Homo sapiens: one gene and its partner. The protein of the gene in region 2 interacts with the protein of the main gene of each other region in a pairwise test. Each region holds a gene or a part of one and is shown on either strand. Other genes may lie near its edges.

What was found. Proteins that work in one complex are often made in the same cells at the same time.
Region 1: the proteins of RCC1L (region 2) and RBBP6 interact in a two-hybrid assay, tested with the Homo sapiens proteins (one study listed by BioGRID and IntAct).

The regions. Positions count from the first base shown.
Region 1 is NC_000016.10:24,556,554-24,563,580, forward strand, and holds part of RBBP6 (E3 ubiquitin-protein ligase RBBP6), read left to right. Parts: intron 1-2,951; coding exon 2,952-3,124; intron 3,125-5,058; coding exon 5,059-5,162; intron 5,163-5,270; coding exon 5,271-5,608; intron 5,609-6,645; coding exon 6,646-6,742; intron 6,743-6,869; coding exon 6,870-6,948; intron 6,949-7,027. UniProt on the Homo sapiens protein: E3 ubiquitin-protein ligase which promotes ubiquitination of YBX1, leading to its degradation by the proteasome.
Region 2 is NC_000007.14:75,049,782-75,056,808, reverse strand, and holds part of RCC1L (RCC1-like G exchanging factor-like protein), read left to right. Parts: intron 1-84; coding exon of another isoform or gene 85-104; exon of another isoform or gene 105-296; intron 297-734; coding exon 735-908; intron 909-4,012; coding exon 4,013-4,098; intron 4,099-7,027. UniProt on the Homo sapiens protein: Guanine nucleotide exchange factor (GEF) for mitochondrial dynamin-related GTPase OPA1. Activates OPA1, by exchanging bound GDP for free GTP, and drives OPA1 and MFN1-dependent mitochondrial fusion. Plays an essential role in mitochondrial ribosome biogenesis.

The DNA of each region.
Region 1 (7,027 bases), on a different chromosome or scaffold from region 2:
TGTATACCAAAGCCATTAGTCTCTACATCTTGCATTTCTGTGAGGCTGCAGTCTGCTCCATTTAAAGCAAATTTAAAATGGATTTGGGGATTTTTTGTTACCAGTGAGTGCCACTTCCCTTGTAGTCTTCTAATTTTTTCTTTTTCTGTCATTCCCTGCTTTCTTCCTCATTCACATACATACTCCCACATAATCTTATTATATATGCTACTTGCATTTTTAAGTGAACAAAACAGATTGTAATCATTTTGAGAAACAGGAGGCTTAAGAATAAAAGCTCTGCATGATGTTGAGGCAAATTTAAGTGTCAGGCATAAATGAAATACTGAAGTAGCTTGAATAAGTTTGGATATGCCATGTGAGTCTTAAGATTCTCAAGTAAGGTTTATTTTATAAACCACTAGTTCAGATCAACTATAGCTCTATAAAACACCTTAATGCCTTTTTTTTTTTTTTTTTTTTTGAGACCAAGTCTCGCTCTGTCCCTTAGGCTGAAGTGCAGTGGCACAATCTCGGCTAACTGCAAGCTCCACCTCCCAGGTTCACACCATTTTCCTGCCTCAGCCTCCTGAGTAGCTGGGACTACAGGCGCCCGCCACCACGCCCGGCTAATTTTTTGTATTTTTTTAGTAGAGACGGAGTTTCACCGTGTTAGCCTGACCTTGTGCTCCACCCGCCTCGGCCTCTCAAAGTGCTGGGATTACAGGCATGAGCCACCACGTCTGGCCCTTAATGCCCATTTTTAATGTGTATTCAGATTTTATATTATGAACCAGTTTTTAATGAAATGGACAGACATGAAAATTCAGTGGCAGGGTTCAACTAGATAACCTCCCATTTTATCTGCTTTTATTAATGTAGTCAGTTACTTTTTTGATTACCTTCAACAGTTGTGATCTCACATACTATACAGCATAATATTAAGTGTTCTTTGGACTGCTGTTCTCTAACTTTGTTGAGCATAAGAATTTCCTACAAAAGTATGTTAAAAGGCTGGCCAGGTAGAGGGACCTTGGGCAAAAAAAAAAAAGATCCTGGTTGCTCCGCCCCCAATTTTGATTTAGAAGTTATGTGATAAGACCCTGATTCTACATTTTTAACAGGTTGTCCAAGAGATTGTGAAGTTAGGGGATCCTCAGGGCATCAATTTACAGAATTAGGTGTTCATGTTCTCAGTGAAAAAATACATACATATATAAGAACAGTTCCTCAGCTTCATGCTATAAATATTGTTGAAGTGTAGTGTAGTGAGCAGGTGGGGATGATGATGAAAATAGCTATGCCATAGAATGATATTGAAAAGATCTTGTGTTTTTGAATATGTACTTCAGCAAATAGTGTTTTCGTTCACAGATAAGAATGTTTTCCTAAACTCCCAACCCTGCTCACTTCCTCAACTTCACCCCCATCTATTTTTTATCAGTCACCATCCTGTGTTTTTGTGGTTCATCATTGAACAGTCTGTTGTTATGCTGTTTCTAATTCAGAGACATTTCATAGATGTTTCCAAATAACTTTAGCTTGAAATTGATTATTTTTACAGACACAATTAAGAGCAGACCGCTTCATCTATATTATGTAAAATTTTTAAGTAAAAATTTGTGTTGGAAAAATTAGTATCACCTGTAAACCCTAACTAATAATTAACTTCATTGCTTTTGAATGCTGAAATACAAATGCCCAATTGTGCCAGACACACAGCAAATACTGGGGAAAGATGGGAATCTAAATATTTTAAATGAAACTTTCACCCTCTTCACTAACACCACTGATAAGCAACTCAGACTCTTCTTCTGTTTCTTTTTCTATCCTCTGTTCTCCTCTTTTTTTCTTTTTTTTTTTTTTCTTTTTTCTCTCTTTTGGGCAGTGGGAGACTCCTCTTTCACAAATTGGGAACAATGGGGCATAAGCAAATTGATACTTATTTCTGGAATCGTGGTGATGTCTATGGAGCAACTGCAACACAAATAACACACCTAAGGTACCCTACTCTGTACAGCCGAGATTCTTTCATTTTCAGCATTGAGATAAACACACTCTGTTCCTGAATGAAATAGAAAGGGTTTCTCTAGGGATTCCTGTGTTTTGCAAATTTGCCTGATTACAGAGAAGATGGGGGTGTAGAAGCAGTGGTGACAAGTCTGAGAATAGCTATTTTTATTTTTTAATACTATATTTAATGCCCAACATTTCTGCAAAATGCATTTCTACAAAAAACTGGACCTAGAATGTCTAATGAGGTGTTACTTTACATTTTTGTAACACCGATTTTGATCATTTAAGTCACTAATGCTTCTTAATTGACTATAAATTGATTAACCTCTCTTAAAATACTAATAAGTAGATCATGGGTTTTGGTATCTCATTTTATTAATTATTTGTGTGGTAATGACATAATATTTCCCTTGAACTATCTTTCCTTAATTGTATAATGTCAGTACTAATTTTAATTTCCCGTCTTGTGGCATTTACTCCAATACCTTCACAGGTTTGAGAGACTTTTGGGTTATGGAGAAGGGGAGATTTTTTGGGATTTTTAATTTTAATTTTCATTTTTATTTTTTTCAAGAAACTTGATAGAGTAGGAAAAATTGTGATTATGGTGTTGTCTAAATTCAAGTCTTGTCTTTGTCACTTAAATAGAACTTTATGGCACAGAACATTTCGCTTTATTTCTGGCCCTCAGTTCTTAAGAGTGACGGGTTCTAAGATCCTTTTATTGTTTTTGTAGCATTTCTTTGCTTCTTTTTGTTATGCTTGTTTAGACTTTTGTGTCTTTGTTTAGGGTTAGGTTGTACATAATTACTCCCTTATTTTAGAAGATATGGTGCTTGTCTAAACTAATTTGGCATTGCGCTGAATTATGTGTTCCCATTATGTTATAGTAGAACATGTAGCATGAGTACTCTGCCTTCTTAACAATGGTAAAACATGAAAACTTTCTTTTACAGAGAAGCATATGCAATTGGGAAGAAAGAGAAACCTCCCTTCTTACCAGAGGAGCCATCTTCTTCCTCAGAAGAAGATGATCCTATCCCAGATGAATTGTTGTGTCTCATCTGCAAGGATATTATGACTGATGCTGTTGTGATTCCCTGCTGTGGAAACAGTTACTGTGATGAATGTAAGAAGTGCTGAATCTTGGAAGATGTATATTTTAGAATATTTGTATTTACTTGGAATGGCTCTTCCCAACCTCATATGTTTTAATAATAAAATAAATAATGTTGATGACAAGTGTTGATCAATGAGCATTAAGTAGTGAGAAGTCTGTTTTTCTTGCTGTATCTTTTTTAAACAATAACCTGTTTGTCCTTTTAAATTCTAGAATTGACTTCTGTACCTTCATCAGGGTGACTATACTGAGGTGTTTTTCTTAATATAGACTTTTTGTTTCCTGTATGTTTTAAGTGGTATCCAGAATTTTAAAACTTTTTTGGGCCTTAGATAATTCTGGAAATATTTTTAAGTGGTATCTAAATCTTTTTCCTGGATTGTGAATAGCTTATCCTAATATTTCTAAGTGTATTAACACCTGATTCCTGTAGACAGTTTTTGTTTTTTTTTTTTTTTTTTGAGACAGAGTCTCACTGTCTCCCAGGCTGGAGTGCAGTGGTGTAATCTCGGCTCACTGCATCCTCTGCCTTCTGGCTTCACACAATTCTGCCTCAGCCTCCCAAGTAGCTGGGACTGCAGGTGCCCGCCACCACACCCGGCTAATGTTTTGTATTTTTAGTAGAGACGGGGTTTCACTGTGTTAGCCAGGATGGTCTCGATCTCCTGACCTCGTGATCCGCCCACCTCGGCCTCCCCAAGTGCTGGGATTACAGGCGTGAGCCACCGCGCCCGACATCTGTAGACATATTTATTACCCAGCATTTACCATGCAGTTGTGACTTTTTAAATCACTTATATTAGCACTTAGTTGTTTCCTGCCACTTATCCTAAGTTTGTGCCTTCTTACACAGAAGAAATCAGTGTTACCTGAAAATTTGCTCAAGCCTGCTCTGGCCTTTTTCATTTTTAAAGGTAGTTTTGAAATATACAGTCCTCATACACATGGTTCTGCATCTGCAGATTCAAAACCACAGATCATAAATATTTGGGGGCAAGAAAACAGTAAAAAATAATAGTAAAGACTAATACAGATTTTAAAATAAGAGTATAACAACTATTTACATAGCATTTATATTGCAGCAGGTATTACAAGCAATCTAGAGATTATTTAAAGTATACTGGAGGATGTACATAGTATTATATGCAAATACTATGCCTTTGGGGCAGTTGAGTGACTTGAGCATCTACAGACGTTATCTTCAGAGGGTTCTGGAACCCATCCCCTTTGGATACCTGTAAATCTTTATTTTTTGACCTCTTCAGTGAAGACCAAGGTCAAGAAGAGGTTGCTAAAGACTTGTTTCAGATTATATCTTAGATTTAACATACCACTTGGTATTACTGGAGTTTTACTACATTGAAGCTTAATCTTCGTATCTGTAATTTAGTGTTGCTCCCACGTACTGTGCTGTAGGTCTCTCATTTCCTTGCCTGAATAAAAACCCCAAGTTAGCCATGTAAAATTTTTGTCTTTCTAGACTATCTTATATTTCTCTTTTGTTTTCTACAATATTCCAGTTACTAGCTAAACAAAGAATAGTCTTTGAGAAAGAGTGCTTTTGCTCTCAATTCAGACATTTGTTTAAAAAAAAAAAAAGATGGGGTGGGGGATCCTTGCTATTTTGCCCCAGGCTAGCCTTGAACTTCTAGGCTCAAGTGATTCTCCTGTCCCAGCCTCCCCAGGAGTGGGGATTACAGGCACATGCCAGCACACCCAGCTGTGACTTCTTTTTAGCGTAGCATAGGTCATATAGAAAAGAGCAGAGGAGTACTGTAAGATGAGAGATTTTACTTAAGTTTCTTAATCTAAGAAATGATTAGCACGACATGCTTGGAAAACAGTAATGTAACTGAACAAATGTGGACCATCCTTTTAATTCATTTCGTAAACACTTTGAGTTCCTACTATGCTTTTATTAATATTTGAAATCTTATACATAGGTATAAGAACAGCACTCCTGGAATCAGATGAGCACACATGTCCGACGTGTCATCAAAATGATGTTTCTCCTGATGCTTTAATTGCCAATAAATTTTTACGACAGGTAACTGTCTGTATCCATTTTATGAAAAAATTCTTTTTAACTGATTTAACTGTACTTCAGTGAATACTGCATAACATTTTTCTGCATTATTATGCTTGGTATCTGTAGGCTGTAAATAACTTCAAAAATGAAACTGGCTATACAAAAAGACTACGAAAACAGTTACCTCCTCCACCACCCCCAATACCACCTCCGAGACCACTGATTCAGAGGAACCTACAACCTCTGATGAGATCTCCGATATCAAGACAACAAGATCCTCTTATGATTCCAGTGACATCTTCATCAACTCACCCAGCTCCGTCTATATCTTCATTAACTTCTAATCAGTCTTCCTTGGCCCCTCCTGTGTCTGGAAATCCGTCTTCTGCTCCAGCTCCTGTACCTGATATAACTGCAACAGTATCCATATCAGTTCATTCAGAAAAATCAGATGGACCTTTTCGGTAAGCCTGTGTGTTTTTCACTGTTAGAAACCAAATGAGGTCAATGATGTAGTGTTTTGTTGTTGGTTATCACTTTTAACAGCTTTCTTAGTGGACCACTGTGCTCAGTAATGTGGGATGACTTGTAAGAAGTGACTTAGTCTTATTGGGGGAAGAGGAAAACAAACGTGATTGATTTGGCAAATGAGGATTAAGCATCCTGAGGTCAAATACTACACAGGTTGCCAACCAGCCCCTATTAAACGTTGAATGTTCCATATACCATAACAGCTCTGAACTTAACAGAGGTGGGAGAATTCACTTGTGATCATAATGATAGTTTTGGATAGGAGTAGTTTTGAGTAGAACTAAGAACAGTTTAGATAGGTAGAGAAGAGGGGGTAAAAACACAGGTAAGTAGAGAAGTCAGGAATAGTGATTGTTTTGGAGCATAATTATTATGTAGGAGAATAGTGAAAACTCACAGCCTACCACTTCAGAAATGAGACTTTTGTCCATGTAGTTTAATGTCTCATAAATTCTTTAAAAAAAAAAAAAAAAGGTGTAAGAGGCCCATTTCAGACACACTGAAGCAAAATCTTTAGGATGAGACCTTTACATTTACATTTAAGAAATTCCACTGATCTGGTGGAATTTATTTGGTTGATAGTGGAAATAGGCCCAGAGAGTTCTATGGCTGACCCAAGATTATCCTTTCAGTTTAGTGGTAGAACTAGAGCTAAAACTTAACTCTTAATCCTAGGGGGATTTTTGTCTTCATAGGCCAGACTTTGATTTTAAGTTTTACTATTCTTGCAACTGATTTCTGTCATAACTGTAGTATCTTCTTAAGGAGGTCCTTCATTTTACTTTTCCACTTACTACATATAGAGAACTCTTCAAAGTTTCAGCCTTCTCTCACTTTCCTCAGAAGTATTCATCATCTTTGACTTAACTCATCTTAACTGCAGGTGATGGGTAAACAGCAGCAAACTTTTTTACTCTTAATTGTCCATTTCTGATAATTTTTAATGTATTATAATTTATGTTTTTTAAAGGGATTCTGATAATAAAATATTGCCAGCTGCAGCTCTTGCATCAGAGCACTCAAAGGGAACCTCCTCAATTGCAATTACCGCTCTTATGGAAGAGAAGGTAAATTTTACTGGTGCTTTAATTTGGGATTTTTTTTACAGCAGGGTTTTGTTTTTCTGGCTTTGTTCTTACCTCTTTTTTTTTTTTTTTTTTAACTATTTCTGTTTATTTGTGGTTGTTTCTAAAGGGTTACCAGGTGCCTGTTCTTGGAACCCCATCTTTGCTTGGACAGTCATTATTGCATGGACAGTTGATCCCCACAACTGGTGAGTAAGATCACTTTGGTTTAGACCTTTTTCCCTTTAAAAAATAATTTTAGCTTGATTTAATGTGCAATTTTGTATT
Region 2 (7,027 bases):
AGATGGCATTGGATTAGAAGATGGCATTACAGGGTGTGAATGAAGTTCTTAACAAAAAGCGAATAGTCTGCGATTTATCTGTAGATACATGGCCACAGAGCTGAGTCATCCTAGAGCAAACCTCTGGAGTGGAGAGCGAACTACTTCATTCCCCTCCCTTAGCCTGGGCCAGAGAGACTCCAGCTCTGCCTTCTCCAGCCAAAAAATCAAAGGCAGATGGGAGAACAGCCTTCAGCTTTGGATAACGATGAAATATCTGGCACCACTGATGAATATTAAACTTTCTATAACCAAAACATCATTTCTAAGAGTTTTAAGAATCTGGCCAGACATTGTTGATGTGTTTGGCCTTCTGATCAGTGTGAAACACAGAGCTGTCATTAGGGGGAGAAAACATCCTCCAATTCTCTGGTATTCGTATGGGTTTTCTGGATGATTTATACGCTCGTCCCTTCCAGGTTACTAACCCTCAAGATGTGGGAAGTTTGTGTTCTGAGCCAGGAGAGCTGGCGAGACAGACTCCCCCAGCAAGAATTTAAGCAGGGGAGAGAGAATTATTATTCTAAATCTCTGTCTGCATGTTCTTGCCAAGCAAGGAGGAAAAAAACAAAACAAAAAAAAAACAAAAAAAAACCGTGTGGATGTCATAAACCTTGGTGGTGTAGTTTGAGTTTCTGGTGAGGGAGGTTCTTACTTGGATGGACTTACTGACCCTTGTTTTTACTGTAATGTAGGAGAAGGACATGTTTTTGTCTGGGGCTATGGAATTCTTGGGAAAGGTCCAAACCTAGTGGAAAGTGCCGTCCCTGAAATGATTCCACCCACTCTCTTTGGCTTGACGGAGTTCAACCCAGAAATCCAGGTTTCCCGCATCCGATGTGGACTCAGCCACTTTGCTGCACTGACCAGTAAGTTACCAAGCCCGGTGGCCCTGGTGTGAGCCCAGCAGAGGTTCTCTGTCTCCAGTTCAACCCCAAACTGCGGGCAGCTCTCAGGTTCCACCCATCCAACAGAACGGCGCCTTTGTACTGATAACTCAAGCAAGGGCTAAGCCAGAAGTTGTTTGCCTCGAGGTTGTATAATGTCTTGTTTTCCCCCCCTGGAGTTTTAATTTTGGTTCGTTTGGTTTGTGGGTAGGCTAACGTGAACGTGCATTTTCTCAAGAGAGCACCCGTCGGTGGTAGGAAGGGGCATTGCTAGTACGTCGGGTGCTGGAGGAAACCAGCAGAGGCTTGGCGGATCCATGGGTGGGTGATTAGGAAGTGAATGTGTGGGGCTTAATCCCATTCCCTGGCCGAGCCCAGACCCTGATCTGACCCAGGATATGGGATGGCAAAAGGCCGATTTGTCAGACTGTCCCGTGGTTTCACGGAGGTAAATCTACCGATTTCTCCAAAGTGCCGGGGTAGAGAATGATGAAAGGGGAGAGCAAAATGGAGGTTTTTCCCAAAGGCCTGCCAGATTACAAAGCCACAGAATATCCGCTTACCCTGCAGGGTAAGGGTAAGGAATGTGTCCTTTTCTTGGTTACATCTCTTACTCCACCACAGTTACCGTGGGTTCAATTTGCTGCTCTTTAGTTGACTCGAATAGTAAAACTGTCCTGAATTAATTTCATTCTGTGATTCTCAAGTAAATTAGTTATTTCCTTGCAATTAAAAGAATCTTTTCATCTCATGGCAAGTAATTGTTTTCTTTTTAAACATCCAGGCCGGGACAGTCAGTTGGTGTCATCTTTGGTTGAGTTCTCTGGCCTCATTCCCACGTGGGGCCTGTCCCAGATGCTCACCCTCTGTACCAGGGTCCTAACTGCTATTCACTTATTGTCTGAATTCCAGGCTCCAGAGGCCGTCAAACAGGCAGGCCTGGGTTGTTATGGCTGCCAGCTGGAGTTTTATCTGGCTCTAGGCTGAAGCACTGAAGTGGCAGTGGTCATGACTAAGCCAGAGAATTCCTGGCCACTGCCCAGCCAGAGTGGCCACTTGCATTTGCAGCTGAGTGTAGGTCTCATGAATTCTTTTTTTTTGAGTTGGAGTCTCACTCTTGTTGCCCAGGCTGGAGTGCAATGGCGCGATCTTGGCTCACTGCAACCTCCGCCTCCCGAGTTCAAACGATTCTCCTGCCTCAGCCTCCCAAGTAGCTGGGATTACAGGCACACACCACCACGCCCGGCTAATTCAGTGTCATGAATTCTTAAAGCTATTTTGATTTGATAAATAAGAGTCGTATGGACTAATTTTGGGGGAAACAAATATCTACTTTCCAGAAAGTTCTTAAGGCCTCAACTATGGGCAGAGACACATGTTTAGAAATCTGTGTGAAGCATTTGACTAGAGCAGAGGCTTTTCTATTTGCCCTCATGCCATGTAGCCATTTCAGGTCACAGCGAAATGAAATTCCTTTCTGGATTTCTCCCCGAGACTTAACAGGCCTCCTTCTAAGGGTGAGTTACTGCCTGTTGGTAGACAGAGCCTAGCTGTCTTCCTGCCTGTGTGCCTGGCATTTGCAGATAGCCATCTGGGAATTAGAGTTGGTTGGTTTATCCTGTGGTCTGCTAGCATTTTGGGGAGCCAGGCCGAATTGTTCTATTAAACACCTAAGGGCTAGCTGGGTGCAGTGGCTCATGCTTGTAATCCCAGCACTTTGGGAGGCCAAGATGAGAGGATCCCTCAAAGCCCAGGAGTTCGAGACTAGCCTAGGCAACATAGTGAGATCCCTTTTCTACAAAAAATACAGAAATTAGCTGGGTGTGGTGGTGTGCGCCTGTAGTCCCAGCTACTCTGGAGGCTGAGGTGGAAGGACTGCTTGAGTTTGAGAGTTCAAGGCTGCAGTGAGCTATGTTTGTGCCACTGCGTCGCAGCCTGGGCAGCAGAGTGAGACCCTGTCTCAAAAGCAAACAAACACACACACACAAAAACTATCTAAGGTCTGAGTGTGGAGAACAAGGGGCATGCTTAGATCAGGGGCCTAAGACAGCTTGTAATTATTCCGTACTTCATCAGCCCCAGGTCTTGTAGTCCTGGCTTTTCCATGTCACTTCCTCTGCCTCCCATGACCCAAGCCTTTTGCCCAACAGCTGATGGTGACATGGGCCCAGGAGTGCCCCAGCTGGTGCAGACAGAGTCCCACCTGAAGGCCGGGCTAGGAGAGGCCATCTCCTGGGTTGACCTCTTAAACAGCATCTTGTACTTTTTCTTCATGACAGTTTTTACAGTTTGTAAACATATATTAAAATCATCTGTCTGTTCCGTCTCTGGCCAGTCCCCAGCTCCTGGAACACAGACCTAGACCCAGCACAAGCAGGCACTTGGTCATTAGATGCCCTGTGGCTGAATGCTCCCAAGATATGGACAATCAATCCAGGAATGACAAATTGTCTTACTTTTCACTGTCAAATCAGGAAGCCCAGGGTGTCGCCAGGATTTGTGGAAGGCAGAGTTTGGTGGCACACGATTGTGGGCGGGGCACAAGGGGTGAGCAGAGTGGGCCGTGTGCATCAGTGACCTCCAGCCCCGTGCACCACCCCCAGACCCCAGCTCCATGCACCACCCCCAGACCTGTCCACCACCCCCAGACCCCAACTCCATGCACTACCCCCAGCCCTGTCCACCACCCCCAGACCCCAGCTCCATGCACCACCCCCAGCCCTGTCCACCACCCCCAGACCCCAGCTCCATGCACCACCCCCAGCCCCGTGCACCACCCCCAGACCCCAGCTCCATGCATCACCCCCAGCCCCGTGCACTGCCCCCTGCCCCATCTTCATTTGAGTGCTCATCTCCCACGTGGGTGGATGCAGCAGAAGTCCTGGCCGTGGATGTGTTTTCGATATGGGGACAGCATCTCAGACCCTTACTTTTGCCTTCAAAGAAAGCATGAACGCCTGGTAAAAGCTGAACAGTGGGCTCTGTAGGTATCTGGTTCTAGAAAGCCTGTTCTCATGACCCATCCTCTCCTTGGAGACTTGTTCTTCACACAGTCCCAACCAACCCCTGTTTTCCTCCCTTTGCAGACAAAGGAGAGCTGTTTGTATGGGGCAAGAACATCCGAGGGTGCCTGGGAATCGGTCGCCTGGAGGACCAGTATTTCCCATGGAGGGTAAGGCTGGCCGGGGAGGTCTTGAGAATGGATGCTAAGAGTAGAGTCACCTGACGTCACTGCAGACACCTCGCGTGCAGATGGGCCAGGACGAGGGCCATGGGACCTGCTCCCCCTTCCGGGTCCTGGCTGCACTCCTGCAGCGCGGCATGCTATGTCATTGCACACTCTGTGGTGACACCCATGAGATACCCGTGGTGCATCTGCATGGTGTGATGCGTGGGGGAGTGACACCAGGCTTCTTGGGGTGCAGGAGCTGGGTCAACCCATCCCGGCCCACTGACTGGGAGGTTGGAGGGAGTAGCCCACTCAAGCATCCAGTCCTATAAGAAGCCCTGTCGGAGGCCATCCTTGGGGTGGATCGGGGAAACAGAGGCACGATGGTGCAAAGGCTCTGGTAGGGTGCCATGAGGCTCCGGAGAGGGGGAGATATTGGATGAAGTTGGCACGCTAGAAGCTGTTTACAGAAGCCCATGTGGGGGAATGCTTCACAATGAATTTAAAAGAAAGCAGGATGTTTAATATTTAGATGGCCCAACCGCAGCTATGAAGTGAAAAAATAAAGTCGCTTCCTTAGGGGCGGTAGTATGCAATTAGACAAAAAGGCTCCTTCCAGAATTACAGGGGAAGAGACGCTCATTCTAAAATTGTAGTTTACCTTAGTGTTGTTTACTAAGTCAGTTCTTTAAGGCATTCTAAAAAAGGAGGTTTTTGGGGTTTTTTGAACATGAAACATATGTTCATGGTACAAAAAAATGCACTATGGAAAATGAGTCTCCCACCACCCAGTTTTTGTTCCAGAGGCAGCCACTGGTCCTGATTTCTTTATGTTCCTTTCCAGAGATAGTCTCTGCATAGAGACTGGTGTGCATGCGTGCTTTGTGTGTGTGTGCCTGTGAGTACATACATGTGTGTGCAGTGTGCATATGGGTGTATTTTATCAGAAGGTTGGATTTTAATTTGTTTTGAAATTGTGAAAAGCGTTTTTAAAAAGGACTTGCACCAGGTGTGGTGTCTCACACCTGTAATCCCAGCGCTTGGGGAGGCCCAGGTGGGTGGATCACAAGGTCAGGAGTTCGAGACCAGTCTGACCAACATGATGAAACCCCATGTCTATTAAAAATACAAAAATTAGCCAGGCATGGTGGCACACGCCTGTAATCCCAGCTACTTGGGAGGCTGAGGCAGGAAATCACTTGAACCCGGGAGGCAGAGGTTGCAGTGAGCCAAGATCAGACGCTGCTGCACTCCAGCCTGGGCAACAGAGGGAGACTGTGTCTCAAAAAAAAACAAAGGACTTGCAAAAGAAATGTGTATATATATATGTGTGTATATATATATGTGTGTATATATATGTGTGTGTGTATATATATGTGTGTGTGTGTGTATATATGTGTGTATATATATATGTATGTATTTATATGTGTGTGTATATATGTGTGTATATATACACACACACATATAAATATATATACATATATAATACATTTATATTATACGTTTATATATATTAAATATATATATATATATATTTTTTCCAAGACTATCGGTGGAGGCTCTGAGAAAGCAAGTTGAAATGGAGACTTTAACTTTGTTTTTTTGTTTTTGCTTATTATGAGACAGGGTCTCACTTTTATCACTCAGGCTGGATTGCAGTGATGTGATCACAGCTCACTGCAGCCTTGACCTTCCTGGGCTCAGGTGATCCTCCCACCTCAGCCTCCTGAATAGCTGGGACCACAGGCGTACACCACCACACCTGACAAATTTTTTTATTTTTAGTAGAGATGGGAGTCTCACTATGTTGCCCAGGCTGGTCTCAAACTTCCGGCTTCAAGCAATCTGCCTCCCTCAGCTTCCCAAAGTGCTGGGATTACAGGCATGACCCATCACGCCCGGGCGACTTTAGCCTTGTTGGAAAGCTGTTTGTATAATAGAGTTGTTCCCAAGGTGGTGGGGCTTGCCGGCTTTCTCCTGAGCCTGGAAACTGCCGGTGTGAGGAACAGAGAGTCGGGCAGTGGGTGTGGCTCAGATAATGTGAGCATCAGTCATCTACATGCCCACTTGCTTTCTCACTGACTCCTCTCTTCTCTCACTTTGCCCTTTCTTTCGAAAAGGACTTCCTTCTGAGGGGGGAACTTGGGAAACAGTTAAAGCAGCCGGGTTTTGGGTGAAAGAACGCTGACGAGGGTCTGCCCCCCGCCCTCATTTCCTTCAAATCAGAGTGATCAGCCTGAGATTTGACTCAGGTCACGTTGCCCCTGCCATAAGGGCATGTGCAAAGCGCTGGTCCCTGTGCGGGCAGGGAGTGGCCGGAGCCCGATCCCGTTGACATTCCATCTGGGTCACTTGCCCTGGCTCGCCACACACCAAGTGTCCTTCTGGTCATTTGCTTTTTATTTTTATTTTTATTTTATTATTATTGTTTTGAGATGGAGTCTTGCTCTGTTGCCCAGGCTTGAGTGCAGTGGCATGATCTCAGCTCACTGAAACCTCCACCTTCCGGGTTCAAGTGATTCTCCTTCCTCAGCCTCCCTGGTAGCTGGGATTACAGGTGCATGCCACGACGCCTGGCTATCATTTGCTTTTTAAACACATTTGTGCCTTTGGGAAAAGAGCACCCCAGCCTGTCCCCGTGACGGCGGCATTTGGCGCCAAACCATTGTCCTTCCTCTTGCACATTCAGGGAGCCCCTAAGGGTTTGTGCACGGAGTGGCCTCGACCCCTGTCCTCTTTGGATTGGGGTGGGAGAGTCCAGTCCCTTCTGATGACTCACTTAAAAAAAAAATTACAAGTGATTTTTCTTTTCTTTGTTTTGTTTGTTTGTTCTTTTAGACAGGGTCTTGCTCTGTCACCCAAGCTGGAGTGTGGTGACAGGATCTCGGCTCACTGCAGCCTCTGTCTCCCAGGTTCAAGTGATCCTCCTATC